2 separate regions of the Homo sapiens genome follow, and region 1 is linked to region 2. The links come from fine-mapping of genetic effects on gene expression. Tissue or cell type: whole blood. Region 2 holds a variant in brackets; the other region holds the start of a gene. All regions are shown on one strand. Distances are between the middles of the regions.

The links. PIP is the estimated chance that this variant, and not a neighbour inherited with it, causes the effect.
Region 1: SLFN12 starts here. The variant in region 2 is fine-mapped to the expression of SLFN12 in whole blood (TOPMed, PIP above 0.99).

The regions. Positions count from the first base shown.
Region 1 is chr17:35,427,654-35,435,760 of GRCh38, reverse strand. SLFN12 (schlafen family member 12) reads left to right here and starts at 3,261. Exons shown (of 4, transcript NM_018042.5): 1 at 3,261-3,573. It overlaps SLFN13 (schlafen family member 13), which reads left to right. Exons shown (of 6, transcript NM_144682.6): 6 at 1-665. RefSeq lists enhancers at 1,174-1,899, 1,850-2,089, 2,910-3,129, 2,058-3,257, 2,626-3,351 and 1 more.
Region 2 is chr17:35,482,953-35,491,059 of GRCh38, reverse strand. The region is part of intron 2 of SLFN12L (schlafen family member 12 like); the gene reads left to right. It also overlaps the pseudogene E2F3P1. Among named protein-coding and RNA genes, the nearest start is that of SLFN13, 38 kb to the right of the region's middle. RefSeq lists a silencer at 796-1,090 and an enhancer at 3,605-3,884. The variant C/T (reference allele first, on the strand shown) is at 3,933.

The DNA of each region.
Region 1 (8,107 bases), 55 kb after region 2:
AGTGTAATTCACCACAGATTAAGAGTTCAAAAGAGAAAAATCACATGATCATCTGAATAGAGGAAAAAGCTTTTGATAAAGTTCAACATCCATTCATAATAAGGACTCTCAGCAACTTAGAAGTATAAAAACACTTTTGGAAATCAACAAAGGGAATTTACAGCATGAACAAACAGCAAGCCAGCATGGTGGCTCACACCTGTAATCTCAGCACTTCCAGAGGCCAAGGCAGGAGAATCACTTGAGCCCAGGGGTTAGAGACAAGCCTTGGCAACATAGCAAGATCCTGGCTCTACAAAAAATAAAATAAAATGAAATAAAATTTAAAAATTAGCTGGGTTTGGTGGTGTGTGCCTGTAGTCCCAGCTACTGGGAGGCTGAGGTGAGAGGATCACTGGAGCCCAGGAGGTGAAGGCTGCAGTGGGCTAAAAACAACCAGAACAACCCCCCAACCCCCTCCCCGCAAAACACTATAAAGAATAGCAACACAAGGTTCAATGTAAACTTTGATATGGTGTTTTACCTCTGAGGAGAGGCTTATTGTTAATATTCTTTAGCCGTGTAAGGGGTTCACAGATGTTCATACTTTTGTTCTTTATACCTTATATGTATTCTATAAATATTGTTTCTACTCAATAGTTAATAAAAACATAATTTAAAAGTTCTGTGAATGTTTTTACTCTGCTCACTTTTGAGGGGCCTTTTGGGATATGCATTTTCTATTCCAAGTTGATCTGATATGTCATGCCTGCCACACACATTCCCATGGGAACAACTTCTTAATGTCTTTTGTTTCTGCCTTGGAAGCCATCCTGGTGCTCTGGGAAAATCCCTGCACTAGCATTTTCTTTTTCTTTTCTTTTCTTTTTTTTCTTTTTCTTTTTTTGAGATAGAATCCCTTGCTCTGTCTTTCAGGATGGAGTGCAGCCGTGTGATCTTGGCTCACTGCAACCTCTGCCTCCATCCAAGCGATTCTCATGCCTCAGCGCCCCCACACCCTCCCCAGTCCACCACAGTAGTTGGGACTACCAAGGCGCGCACGACTATGCCCTCTCACCATATTGCCCTGGCTGGTCTCCAACTCCTGAGCTCAGGCAATCCACCCACTTCGGCCTCCCAAAGTGCTGGGATTATAGACGTGAGCCACCGCACCCGGCCTGCGCTAGCTTTTTTTCTTTGTTTCTTTCTCTTTCTTTCTTTCTTTTTCTTTCTCTCTCTCTCTCTTCTTTCTTTTTTTCTTTCCCTCCCTCCCTCCCTTCCTTTCTCTCTTCTCTCCCTTCCTTCCTTCCTTCCTTCCTTCCTTCCTTTCCTTCCTTCCTTCCTCTTTCTTTCTTTCTTTCTTTCTTTCTTTCCCTTCCTTCCTTCCTTCCTTCCTTCCTTCCTTCCTTCCTTCCTTTCTCTCTCTCTCTCTTTCTTTCTTTCTTTCTTCTTTCCTTTTTTTTCCCCGAGACAGAGTTTTGCTCTTGTTGCCCAGGCTGCAGTGCAGTGGCATGATCTCAGCACACTGCAACCTCCGCTTCCCAGGTTCAACTGATTCTCCTGCCTCTGCCTCCCTAGTAGCTGGGATTACAGGGGTCTGCCACCACGCCCGGCTAATTTTTTTTGTATTTTTAGTGGAGACGGGGGTTTCACTACGTTGGCTGGGCTGGTCTCGAACTCTTGACTTCAGGTGATCCACCCACCTCGGCCTCCCAAAGTCCTGGAATTATGGGCATGAGCCACTGCTCCCAGCCGGCACTAGCATTTTCTAAGCCAATGACTGAAGAATAGTTTTTTAACTTCGGTGAGACTGTATCCATAGAGCTGGCGTCTGGATCAGATGAGAAGAAGAAAAGCGCAGCTATGTGCTTTCAATATATACGTTATTTAATGTGAATAGGTACTCTTCCTAGGTACCTTAAGATTTTAGAATAGGCAGTAGGCAGTTAATGCAGTCCAGAGTGGGGTAGGTGGAGCTTGCGGAGAAGGAGCAACTCAGACTTGCACATTCCCCTGTGATGAGTCATCGTGGCCTGTGTGCATTTCAAAAGCTATGTACTGAGACACCAATTCTTAGACAAGTTAGCAGGAAAAACATGTATTACCATAATTATCATAATAAGGGGGCTAAAGGAAAGCAAAGTGGCAGGAGGACTGTATCCGGCCAGACTAGCCTTTGGAGCATCCCAATAAAGGAATCTCCCAAATGGCCCCAAGATGCTCCCTACACTGCCAGGGGTAGGTATTTGAATCTGTCTGTCCTGGAGCAATCCGCTCCTTGCACCTTTGTCCTCTCCTGTCCATCCACAGCTGCCCTGGCCTGGTTCCTGGGGGCAACCGTGCTTTTAAGCAAGGGGGCAGCAGTGCTGCTCTGGGAATGCGAGTACAGCTGGAAAGGTTGAGTCACCCCTTTAGGGGCATGGTAAGAATGCCTGGTATTTCTTCAATTTTGATGAACCAAAATAGTGACAATTGCCCAAAGGCGCAGAGTCGATAATAAAGAGTGCGGACACTTCCGGAGCGCCAGCTGCCCAATAGAAATGCAGGCCACGCTGGGGAAGTGTGGAGCCGCAGCCCAGGATGGGGAGGGCCGGAAAACAGAAAAGGATTCGCGTTCTTTTTACTCTGTGGAGAGTGAGCCCGCGGACTGTAGCCTGGGCCTCGCCAAGTTCCTTTGTTCTTTGTTTTCTTTAAATTACCTTTTTTCTTTTTGTCTTAAAAAATACACATGGGTGAAAAAGAAACGAGAGCTCCCTAGAGATCACTCAGAGCTGTTTTCGTGGGTTTTTAACTTCCAGTTGCTCAAGGGTCCACGCTGGCATCTGGGGTGTGCTCGCACCTGCGAAGAATCCAGCTTCTAGGGAGCACCGCGAGCTGGTAAGTTGGTCCTGCTCCATCGCTAAACCTTCCAGCCTTAGTTTTTCATTTCTGGGGAGTCTGCTGGCTCGGGAGGAGGTGGGGCACTGGTAACACAACCCCACCACTCCCGGGAAGATCCCCGCACCCCCATCCCGGTCTGCTTTCTCTCCCTTCTGAAGCAGGAGAATAAGGGTCTGGAGGAAAATCCCAACTTTCCACAAACTTCCTTTGTAGCCCCTCCTTTTCTACATGGCAGATGAAAAACTGAAAATACCTCTGATTGGTCCCCTCCCGCAACCAATCAGACTGGTCTCCAGGGCCAAGTCTTCATGTGCATAGGAATGTAACTTTGTAACTTCGCTTTCTGCGTCCAATCAGATGTTTTCATAGGGCATAACTTTGTAACTTCACTTCAGCCTCCCATTGATCGCTTTCTGCAACCATTCAGACTGATCTCGGGCTCCTATTTCATTTACATTGTGTGCACACCAAGTAACCAGTGGGAAAACTTTAGAGGGTACTTAAACCCCAGAAAATTCTGAAACCGGGCTCTTGAGCCGCTATCCTCGGGCCTGCTCCCACCCTGTGGAGTGCACTTTCGTTTTCAATAAATCTCTGCTTTTGTTGCTTCATTCTTTCCTTGCTTTGTTTGTGTGTTTGTCCAGTTCTTTGTTCAACACGCCAAGAACCTGGACACTCTTCACTGGTAACATATTTTGGCAAGCCAACCAGGAGGTAAGCCCAAAGTCTGGGATTTATTTTTCTCCTTTCCCTTTTCCTTTCTGCTCCATACAGGTAAATCTCTCTCTTTCTCTTTTCCTTTCCAACGTGGGATCCTTGGTGGGTAGCGCCTAGACACGGAGGCGACTGCAGGTTTCTGGCCGGGGGCTACTCTCCAGTGCTGCCTTGAAGGCCAAGGAGTGAATGGGGATAGTTGCCCTGCCCAGAAGCGGGAAGGGCTCTTTTCTGTCTTTTCTGGTTGTGGTCCCTGATCCCTATGTGTGACGCAGCTTCTCCAGGGCGAACTCACACGTGTTTCAGGTGACTTAAACCTTCTTTCCTTATGTTAAATTCTTCCCTTCCCCTACTCTACTGGCTAAGGTTAAAAGAAACCCACCTAGCCTCCATTTCATATCATTAAAGTTCATGACTATCACTCTAGTGGAATGGGAACCATGGGAAAGCATGGCCTTATCAAATTATAAGGATGCTAGAAGTCAAGGCCTTCATCCAGAGACAAAAGGAAAGCTCACAGTAGGCCATCCCCTCTGGAGGGAAAACATGTAAAGTGGCACTGGTGACCACCTAAGGTCAGAGACGTCTGACGCTCTAAGATTGGACCCTAAAGGGGGATGCTCTGGAGGATCCTTTGGACCTCAGCCTCTCCAAGGGGGTTCCTTTGGTAGAGGTTCTTAGGCCTAGTACTAAGCCCTCCTTAGAATTTTCTCTTCCGGTTGCAGTAGTGTTTGGCCTCAATATTGTTTGGAATCTGGAGTTTGCTGTTGAATGGTAAAGTGGGATGGAGTTGCATGTATGCAGGCTCTTGTGCTGCTGTTCTAAGCAGGGTTGTGTCGGGTTAAAGTGTGATGTTCTCCTTTGGTGCTGTTTGGCCTCAGCGTTCTTTGAAGTGCGAGGAAGTTTGACCTTTAAAAATCAAACTGCCATGGAAACCGCTGACTTATAAATTGCTAAAGTTGTTTATAACCAATGTTTGGTTTCTCAAATCCATATTCCTGGGAAGACAATCAAAGCTTCAGGTACATTTGGCTACCCGATGGGCCATTTAAACATTTACAAAGGGATTTTATTCAATGTCACTTTCAATGCATGTTTTCTTGTTGTATAAAAGCTTTTCCCATGATTATGCTACAGTGTATTTTCACCAGGTAAAGAAAGCTTTTTATGGTTCACTGAGAACAATCAACCCCTTCACAACCTAGAACCCATAGGATAGATGTTCTCAGAACATCTACTGTAAAGGCCATAGTTACACAACAGACTTTAAATTCTTTTGTGAAAGTTATGATAGAATTGGCTGAACAGAGAAGTATCTGTGCAGCTGCTGGCACTTAGAGTCTATGGAGAAATACATTAAATGAAGATTAAGAGATTCAGTTGTAGGGGATTAATGAGGAGATTGTTTACTTAAGTTGGTAGATTCTTTATTTAGTTCATTATTTGATCTATTTAATTTTAACTGGTTTGGTTTATGGGAACCCTGGGCAAGGAGCATCCTCCAAACTCTTGGTATTATCCTCCCAATAGTCATCATAATAATAGGCTCCCTGGTGCACTGTATTCTCTCAAAGGTTTTCGATGTTTGCATGCAGCCATCTCTAGAATGTCAAATGGTCTCTCTTCAACTGGAATGATGAGAAGTGAAACAAATATGCGACCATGAGGACACTGTAACCTATGGATGGTGTGCTGAGACTGGAAACCCAAAATGATGGTAACTGAGAGCGGCGCTAAGGCCTTACGTTTTGGTTACATTCTCACCTAAGTGAGAACCTGAACAAAAAGGGGGAATTTTAAAAAACAAAATTGTGAAAGGCCAGTGTTTTGGACTGAGCTCATGGCCCCAACAGACCAAACCAAACCAAAATGGAGTTGCTCATTCTAAGACTTTAAGGAAACACATAGATCCTAGAACAGACCAAGTTTTTGTTTTTCTCCTGCAAACAGAATGTTTCAGTGAGCAGGACACCCTCCACCGGTAACACTTTCCTGTCTCTGTAGCAACTTCTAATAAACTGCAGGCTGTTGAGGACTTCAGAATGGTGGACTTGGAAGCTATAGGTCGGGTGGAACTTTTGCTCCTGCATGGGCTGGGGAGCAGCCCAGAAAATTTAAAGCATTACCAGAAAATTTAAAGAGCTGTGGGGCCAGTGAGCCAGGGATCTGCAGTGTTCAAGCAGAGCTAGAGAGGCAGGGAGGGCAGAGTGCTCTATGGTCAGGCCAGGCTTGGTGGGTGTCCAGACCTCCCAGGGTTATCCATCCTCCTGGAGTCCTGAACATGCAGGGAGTTGGGGAATAGGTTCTTTAGGTGAAATGCGACCAGGCACTGATGAACTGCATTGCTAGATCCTAAAAGAAAAACCAAGCACCCTCATGCCCTGCTGGTTTATTATCTAGAAGGCGGGAAGGATGAGAGCAGTGCTGTCCTGAACTAAATGCAAAGTGACATCCTAGGAGGGCAAAGAGTGTTGCATGATTTTTGTTTCCCAGGAGGTAGCTCTTACAACTTCTGTCCCACCCTGTGGGCAGTTCCTACTAACCTGCTGTTCTGACATAACTCTAAGGAGATCTGAATGCTGTCTCCTTTCCCATTAAAGATAGCCAACAACAAAGCCTAAATAGTGAGTTCAGGTCTGATAGAATTTCCCCTATAGTCAAAAGTATAAAGGATTTCAGTGGAAACATCTAACCTGTAAACCTAGACCCAAGGTTTAAGGGAGGCCAGTAAGTTTTAGGCCCTAGGGATTTGGTAAGCTCAATCCCCAGCTCATTTTTTAAGGGTTTTGTCCCAGATGTATGCTTGAAGGCAGTGATTTTCAACTATGGAAAGTTTTACACAGCTGCAGATGTTGGACTGGGGTGACCGGGATCCCAGGCTAGTTCACAAGCGCTGGGTCCTCTATAAGGTGGCTCAACTGCAGCTCCCATGGGTTCCAAGTTTCTCAGTGGTATGAGCACCCTCCTTAATCAATCTGAGGGTGAGATGTGATTTCTGTCCCCTTCTGTGTATGGTGGGTTAGGCAAAAAAGTTTACACAGAGCCCAGCCTGATGTAGACAGTGCAGAAAGGTGGGCTAAGAGGAAAGGGGACAAGACTCTAGTTAGAGAGGCTGCAAAAAAGAATCGGGGAGCAGAGCAGAGGCTGCTTGGTGAGGCATTACCAGAAAATTGTAGGGCTGGGGCTGTGCGCCTGGGTAGAAGTGGAACTGATTCTCCTGCAGCCTTTGTGGGTAGAGATGGAGAATCTCTTCTGTCTGGTCAACAGGGAAGGTGGACTTGCCTTTGGGGCAGCCTCATGTGCAAGAAATATGAAGAAATTGGGTCTAAAGAACACTAATTGTGCTATAATACTAAGGAGAAAGCTCAGCATGGCAGAGATATACATCTTCCTCTGCTTTCTAGCATAATTATGCCACATTGAGACTACTATTGAGTTTTAAATTTAAACTTCAATGATTGTGCTTACCTGGCTTCACTCTTGTTCAACTACCAGGAGTCAGGTCCTCCCCACTTAGGTTCTCTTTTTTTGGAATCTCCCTGGGTCATATGCAAATGCTTTCTTCTATGGACCCAGGCCCAGGGAGCCTATTTGAATGAATGCTAGGTCCAATATCTCTTAGAAGGCAGCCTCTCTTTGTTCTCTCTGAGTTTTCAGGAAACACTGAGGGAAAGATGCTGCTTTCTAATAGCTTTTAGACCACATCCTCTTACCCCCAAAAATTACAGGGGAAAAGTTCTGTAATCCCCACTAAGATGCTTTCTAACAGCTTTTAGACCACATCCTCTTCCCCGCAAAAGGTACAGGCCAAAGTTCTGTAATCCCCACTAAGATGCTTTCCAGTAGCTTTTATACCATATCCTCTTCCCCCCAAAAGGTTCAAGGCAAAGTGCTGTAATCACCACTAAGATAAATTTGCTAGCGATAATTCTGATACAATTATTTGGGAAAGTATTTGATAATATATATCAAAATCTTTGAAGTTTTTGTCACTTGATACAGTAATTTAACTTTTACAAACTTCTGTCTCTCTCTGTGTGTACATATATACACTCTATATACTTACATAATTTCAGCTTAATTATGTACCTAAGGCACAGGTTCAAATATAACCTTATGTTTCACCATGAACCTTTATTTCCACAGATTCAGACTCTTTCTTCTCTTACATAATTTTTCCCCTTCAAGGTTCCATTTCTTATATCCTGAAATCTGGCTTCTTTTCTGTCTACATGTTCTGGCCTCCCATACTCGATTTAACCATCTTTGTATATATCTGAACCGTATCTGTATATATAATTGAAGTGCTTTGCCAGGGCACTCTTAGACTCAATGAAAATTAGACTGTGTGATTAGCATACCCAAACATTGAAATAACTGAGTCAAGATTCTAGTATAATTATATCGAATGATTGAAAGCAACTTCAATGTTCAGTTGTAAGGTAATAGTTAAATAATGGTACATTAATACCATGTATGAAATTATGCAGTTAATAAGGTTTTTAAAGAATAGCTAATTATTATTTTTGCAAAA
Region 2 (8,107 bases):
AGAAGGAATTTGGTCCGCAGTCTGCTGTAAGAGGTTGGCTGGGGAGGCCGGAGGAGAAAGGTTTCCCATAGAAATTGAGCAATCGCTATGTCCTGAGTTGGTTGAAACCAACGAGGTGGGTTTAAGGATATTCCCATTGGGGTCTTGGTTGTTTGTTGTCATTGGACTGTGTTTCAGTCTCTTCTGGACATAAGTAAACCTCAATGTGCCCTTGGGTACCTGCCAAATGTATTTGTAGGCTCTCTTATTGAGTCAGGCACTCAAGTCTTATTTCTGGAGGGGCTTTCACAACTATAACAGTTTGGTCTTTAAGGCCACTAATTTTTCGAATATGTTGATATGTAACGTAAGCTAACCTTTGACGATCTGAATCCTCGGTTAATAGTTTGAGGTCCAGCGTGCAGCTTGGGATCAGTTCATCTAATTTCTTCTCTTCCTGAGTGAGCTTGGTCATTTCTTTTGACAGGCCTTGACACTGGGTCAGCATGCCCCCATCCGCAGACAGACTGCAACCCATCCACTGGACGTTATTTTTAGACTTCTTCTTAATGAGATGGATGCCTTTCAGAGCTTTGGTGATATCATAAATCCTTCTATTTTGCACTTTTAGCACTTCCGCTGCCTTGTTCAAAACCAAGACCCCATCGGGTGACTGGTTCAGGAGCTGAATGAACTTCTTGGTGAGCAGATCAAGAGACTATCGTACCGTGTTTTTTCTGAGGTAGATTTTGGAGTTTTTGGAGTATCTGGACTTCTTAGTGCAGCTCTTCCTTTGCCCTTGGGGGTTTTTGAACCATCCGAGAGGTACTGATGACCGCTTTCTCCTAGCTCCAGACTTCACTTTGCCAGAGGGCCACTGCCGCCTCGTCCCAGCGCTGGTGGCTGCAGCAGCCCGGCTCTGCTGGAGGGTCCCTGCGGCGTGGTGTAGAGGAGGTTGCCGGCGGTCTGCTCCGCGCCTGGGGCACTGGGGAGGAGGGGGCCGGTGGCTACGGCGCCGCTTTGGAGGGAGAGGGAACAGGAGGTGGTGGAAGTGTTCGTGGTGAGGATCTGGATGTCGGATATTTCTTTCTATTCCCAATTTGCTAAGGGTTCTTTTTAAAAATCATGACTGGTTGTGGGATTTTTGTCCCACTTGGAGCATAAGATGCTGTGCTGTATAAACTGTCATAATATTCCACAAGGTTGGTGTTCCTCTCCGGAAGTAGATGACAGTTTTCTGCCCCATTGATATTAGGCTTGGCAAGGTGACTTGTTTTGATCTATGGAATAAGTGCAGACGTCATATGTATTCTTTCTGAGGATAACTTTCAAGAGTCAAATGCTTTTTCGGTATCTATTGAAATGATCATGTGATGTTCCTTTTTTCATTAATGCAGTGAATAGGCCGATTGATTTTCACATCTAAATCACTCTTGGATACCGAGAGTAAACCTCTGTTGGTCTTAATATAATTTTGGGGGGTATATTGCTGCATTCATTTTACATATATATATGTACATATATATACGGACAGGGTTTCACTCTGTCGCTCAGGCTGGAGTGCAGTAGCCTGATCACGGCTCACTGCAGCCTCAACAGCCCAAGTTCAAGTGATCCTCCCACCATAGCCTCCTTAGTAGCTGGGACCACAAGTGCACTGCCACCACGCCCGGTTATTTTAAAAAATTATTTGTAGAGATGACGTCTCCTTATATTGCCAGGCTAGTCCTGAAGTCCTGGGGTCAAGCGACCTTCCTGTCTCCTCCGCTCAAAGTGCTGGGATAATAGGCGTGAGCCACTGCCACGGTATAGGAACGACGTCGTAATCTTTTTTGCTTACTTCTTGGATGCCTTCTTGGTGGTCTGGGAAAATCCCTGCACTACCATTTTGTAAGTCAGTGACTGAAGAAGAGTTTCCTCACTTCAGTGAAGCTGTTTCCTTAGAGCTGGCGTGAGAATCAGATGAAATGAAGAAAAGCACGGCTATGTACTTTTGTTTTGTTTTGTTTTTGAGGCAAAGTCTCGCTCTGTCGCCTAGGCTGGAGTGCAGTGGCGGGATCTGGGCTCACTGCAACTTCCGCCTCCCCGGTTCAAGAGACTCTATTGCCTCAGCCTCCCGAGTAGCTGGGATTACAGGCGCGTGCCACCACGCCCGGCTAATTTTTGTATTTTTAGTAGAGACGGGATTTCTTCATGTTGGCCAGGCTGGTCTCAAACTCCTGACCTCAGGTGATCCGCCCGCCTCTGCCTCCCAAAGTGCTGGGATTACAGTCCTGAGCCACCGCGCCCGGCCAGCTATATACTTTCAATGCATGTGCTCATTCAGTGTGAAGAAGTACTCTGCCTGTACCTTAAGATTCTAGATGGGACTTCCAACGGCAGGCCCTTAATTGAGTCCGGAGTGGGATGGAGCTAGGGAGAAAGGGCAATTCAGACTGGTGAACTCCTCAGTTAGTGAGTCATTTTGGCCTGTGTGCATTTCAAAAAGTATGGGTTCTCGCAACAGTTCTTAGACGTGTGGGCTGGAGAAACGTGTATTATCGTAATTACCATAACAAGGGCCCCACGAAAGCAACGTGACAGGAGGGCTGTATCCAGTTAGAGGAGCCACTGGACTGTTCGAAGCCAACTAATTGGCCTAGAAGGCCGCAAGATACTTCCTACACCGCAAGGGGTAGTTGTTCAACTCTGTCTCTCTGAGAGCAACCCGCTCCTCGCACCTCCCTCCTCCCCTGTGCATTAGTAGCTGCTCTCCCCCGGTTTCTGGCGTCAACTGCGCTTTCAAGCAAGGGGACAGCAGGGCTGCTCTGGGATACGAGTCAAGCTGGAATGTCACCCCTTTAGGGGTTTGGTCCTTCGTCAATTTTTTTTTGAGACGGAGTCTTGCTCTGTCGCCCAGGCTGGAGCGTAGTGGCACGATCTCGGCTCACTGCAAGCTGCGCCTCCGGGGTTCACGCCATTCTCCTGCCTCAGCCTCCCGAGTAGCTGGGACTACAGGCGCCCGCTACCATGCCCGGCTAATTTTTTTGTATTTTTAGTAGAGACGGGTTTTCACCATGTTAGCCAGGATGGTCTCTATCTCCTAAGCTGGTGATCCACCCTCCTCAGCCTCCCAAAGTGCTGGGATTACAGGCGTGAGTCACCGCGCCCGTCGTTGGATTCGCAGACACACCGTTTCCAAAGGCGCAGAGTCGATAACAGCGCGTGCGGTGCCACCACTTCCGGGGAGTCGAGTGCCCGATAGAAATGCAGCTGAGCGAGGGGCTAGCCGCACACGGACGCGGAGAGCAGGAAAGTGGAAAAGAACTCAGGTCCCCCTACTTGGTGAAGAGTGCGCAGACATGGACCTCGCCAGGTTCGTTCTCTTTTTCTTTAAATAACTTTTTTTTCGCCTTAGAAAATACAAATAGGTACAGACGAAACGAGAACTTCTCCGTGATCCCTCAGAGCTATTCACGTGGGCGTTTAACTTTCAGTTGCTTAAGGGCCCGCGCTGGCACAGCGCCTGCAAGGAATCCTGTTTCCAGGGAATTGCTGGCAGATAAATTCGTCCCGCTCCACTGCCAAACCTTCCAGCCTCCGTTTCTTATTCCGGGGGTCCGGGGGGGGTGGTCCGTGGGCTCCGGGACGAGGTGGGGCGCTGCCAGAGCAACCCCACCGATCTCGGGGAGACCCGAGGCTGCTTTCTCTCCCTTCTGGGAAAGTTGGCTCCTGTCTCTGTAGCAATGTCTGTCAAAACCGCAGGCTGTTGTAGACTTAGCAATGGAGGACTTGAAAGCTGTAGATGACAAAACTTCCGCCCGTGCGTGGGCTGGGGAGCGCCTTAAAAAGCCGCAGGGCGGCCGGGCGCGGTGGCTCAAGCCCGTGAGGTGTTGGTGCAGAGCTGGAGAAGTGGGGAGTGCTGTATGGACAGGCCAGACTTGGCAGGTGTCCATCGGATGGGGGTTGCCCAC[C/T]CTCCTGGAGTCCTGAGCATTCAGGGAGTTGGGGAATGGGTTATTTAGGTGAAATGTGACCAGGCACTGACGAACTGCGCCCTAGATCCTGAAAGAAAAACCAAGCACCCTCTTGCGCTGCTGGTTTATCATCTAGAAGAGGGAAAGGGTGAAAGCAGTGCTGTTCCGAACTAAATGCAAAGTGGTATCCGAAGACGGCAAATCACGCTCTATGCTTTTTGCTCCCCAGGAGGTAGCTCTTCTGCCTCCTGTCCCACCCTTGTGGGTTGCAGTTCTTACTAACCTGTTGTTCTGGCATAACTCTAAGGAGATATGAATGCCACCCCCATTCCCATTAAAGATAGCCAACAACATAGCCTAAATCATGAGTTCAGGTCTGATAGAATTTCCCCTATAGTCAAAAGTATAAAGGATTTCAGTGGAAACATCTAACCTGTAAACCTAGACCCAAGGTTTAAGGGAGGCCAGTGAGTTTTAGGCCCTAGAGATTTGGTCGGCTCAGTCCTCAGCTCGTTTTTATTTATTTATTTATTTAATTTTAGCATTGTGTTCCAGATGTATGCCTGAAGCCTGAGGTTTTGAACCATGGAAAGTTTTACATGGCTGCAGGTGTTGGACTCGGGTGGCCAGGATCCCAGGCTAGTCCACAAGTGCTCGGTCCTCTATAAGGTGGCTCAACTGCAGCTCCCATGGGTTCCAAGTTTCCCAGTGGTATGCGTACCCTCCTTAAGCAATCTGAGGGTGAGATGTGATTTCTGTCACCTTCTGTGTATGGTGGGTGAGCCAAAAGGGTTCATCCAGGGCAAGGCCTGATACAGACAGTGCAGGAAGTTGGGCTGGGAGGAAAGGGGACAGGACTCCAGTTACAGAGGCTGCAAGAAGAATTGGAGAGCAGGGGCTAATCAAGGAGGTGAAAGAACTTTACGAGGAGAACTATGAAACACTGCTGAAAGAAATCATAGACGACACAAACAAATGCAAAAGCACTCCATGCTCATGTGTTGGAAGAATCAGTATCATTAAAATGTTCACACTCCCCAAAACAATCTACAGATTCAATGCTATTCCTATGAAATTACCAATGTCATTTTTCACAGAATTAGAAAAAATGATTTAAAATTTGTATGCAACCAAAAAAGAGCCTGAATAGCCAAGGCAATCCTAAACAAAAAGAACAAAACAGGATAGGGAGCCTTACACCACATTACTGCATTTCAAGCTATACTTCAAGGCTACAGTAACCAAAACATAGTACTGATACAAAAATAGACACGTAGACCAATGGAACAGAATAAAGACCCCTGAAATAAAGCTTCACACCTACAACCAACTCATCTTTGATAAAGTCCACCAAAATAACCAATGGAGAAAGGACACCCTATTCAATAAATAGCTAACCATATGCAGAAGAATGAAACTGGATCCCTGTCTCTCACCATATACAAAAATTAACTCAAAATTAAGACTGAAATGTAAGACCACGAACTATAAAAGTTCTAGAAGAAAATCTAGGATATACTCTTCTAGACATTGCCCTGGGCAAATAAATTATTATAAAGATCTCAAAAGCAAATGCCACAAAATCAAAGATAGACAAATGGGACTTAACTAAACAGCGTCTGCACAGCAAAAGTCTCAACAGAGTAAACAGACAACCTAGAGAATGGGAGAAAATGTTTGCAAGTCATGCATCCAACAAAAGACTAATATCCAGACTTTATAAAGAACTTAAATGAATCAAGAAAAAAACAAACAACTCCATTTAAAAAATGTGCAAAGGGCATGAACAGAAACTTCTCAAAAGAAAACATGCAAGCTGCTCACAAACATTTAAAAGGTCAACATCACTAATCATCAGAGAGCTGCAAAGCGAAATCACAATGAAATACCATCTCATCTAGTCAAAATGACTATACTAAAAAGTCAAAATATGTAGGAAAAAATTAATGAAAAATAAAGAGTTGGTTTTTTGAAAAGATCAAGATTGACAAACCTTTAGCTAGATTGATGAAAGAAAAAACTCAACTAAAATCAAAAAAGAAAGAAGAGACATTACTATTGATTTTATAGAAATCAAAAGGATTATAAGAGTGTACTGTAAAAAATTGTATGCCAACAAATCAAATAACCTAGATGAAATGGACAAATTCCTAGAAACACATCACCTACCAACACTGAGTCAGGAAAAAACAGAAAATCTGAATAGACCTATGTCTAGTAAGGAGATGGAATCAGTAATCTAAAACCCAACTAAGAAAGGCCATGGACCAGATGACTTCAGTAATAAATTCTACCCGAGTAAATTTTTTTTTTGTGAGCCTCTGTCAATATAAACAATTTGAATAAACCCAAATCAGCATTATCAGCACCATCCTGGCAATCCAATCTGACTTGATCCTGTGAAAGAAATCCTGCTCCAGATAGTGAGAGCAATGCACTTGCCAGGCTATTCTCCTGGAATAGGACCTAGCCATGAGGTCCTAGGACAACCCCACAGCCACAAGTCCCAGGGTTTCTTGGGTGAAGGGCCATTGAGTTTCCCAGATGGAAGGAACAGGGATGCTAGTAGTTCTGTCCAGTCTGGGGCACCCTGCCAGGATGACACTGCTGGTGCTGATTGGTACCTGGCACTGGAAATGGTTTAGATAATTTCAAGGAGGGCATTCCAGAACATGGAACGTGCTTTGAACCCCCTGAGGTTCAGTGTCTAAGGTAGGAACTGAACCAAAGCTTTTCCTTCTGGTGTCTTAAATGATTGGGAGTCCTCGCTTGATTTCCTGCAGTTTGAAAACAACTGCTCTGGCCACTTCACTGCTTTGTTTCTAAATATTTCCCTAGATCTATGGTGAAATTAGTGCCAAGTATAGGTACAAAGTTATGTGGGAGTAGCAGAGAGTGAAGGACAAATATGGGAGTTCTGGGATGGATGATAGAGAGTTTATCAGGTGACAAAGGTGGAGGAAAACATTAGAGTCTCAGAGCACACCTATGCAAAAGCACAGAGTCCCCAAATCACATGGGGAGTGGTGACTACTCTGGTGCACAAGGAGTTGTGTCATTTATTGAACATCTACTCTGGTCCCTGTAAATTGTTAAGTGTTATATGGAATAGACGGTTCTTTTTCCTCTGTATGTCACCACCATGATTTGCATATGAATTCTCTTGATGTAACCCCAATTGTCCAAATGATCTGGGGCCTCAATTTTATTATTGTTTACACATGATCAGAAATTTATAGAGACAAAGGTGGTATCTACAACCTTAGCTGAGTATCTGCGTGATAGTGGTCTAGCAGTGGACAGGAATATTCTGACCCCTTTATAGCCCTTTCCTAGTGTAGTGATTACTACCTATGATGGACTTTACTCTCAACTGTCTCTAGGCCACTTGACAAACCTACAGTCTTTAGGTTTTCGTCTATAGCAAAACAGTGATCCCAATAGATTTTAAAGGAAAAGAGCTAATGGATTATGTATACATAGACTAAAGCACACTGTCTTAGTCTGTTTGGCCTGCCACAACAAAATACCATAAATTGGGTGACTTATAAATAACAGAAATTTATTACTCAGTTCTGGAGCCTGGGAAGTCCAAGATCAAGATACCAGCATCATTGGATTCTGGTGAGGACCTTCTTCCCATTGCAGACTGTCAACTTCTTCTGTGTTTTTCATATGGCAGAAGGGGTGAGCTTGTGTTACAGGATCTTCAGGGTGTTGATTTTCTGGCCAGAAACCTCTGTGGCTGGCGGCACCTTTGCCAGAGTTCTTGTCCTGTGTCCAGGAAGAATGAGGTATGCAGACAAGTGAAGGGTGAACAAGACGAAGATGAGCTTTATTAAATGTTAGGACAGCTCAGAGGAGACCTGCAGTGAGTAACTCCTCTCTGTAGGCAGGTCATCCCATGGAATGTTCAGCTCTCAGCAGAGGGGAGGCCCTGGGGAGGGTAGCTTCTATCTGCTACTGGTCCTTCCTACGTTTGCTGCTCTCAGCAGAGAGGAGGCCCTGGGGACCGTTGCTTCTCTCTGCAGCCAATGTCTCTTCAGGTCTCTGAAGCGCTCAGCAGAGAGGGTAGTTCCACTCTGCGGCTGGTTGTCCTGTCCTCTCCTGCTATCAGCAGAGAGGGTAGTTCCTCTCTGAAGTTGGTCCTCTCTTCATCTCTTCCTCCTCTGCCC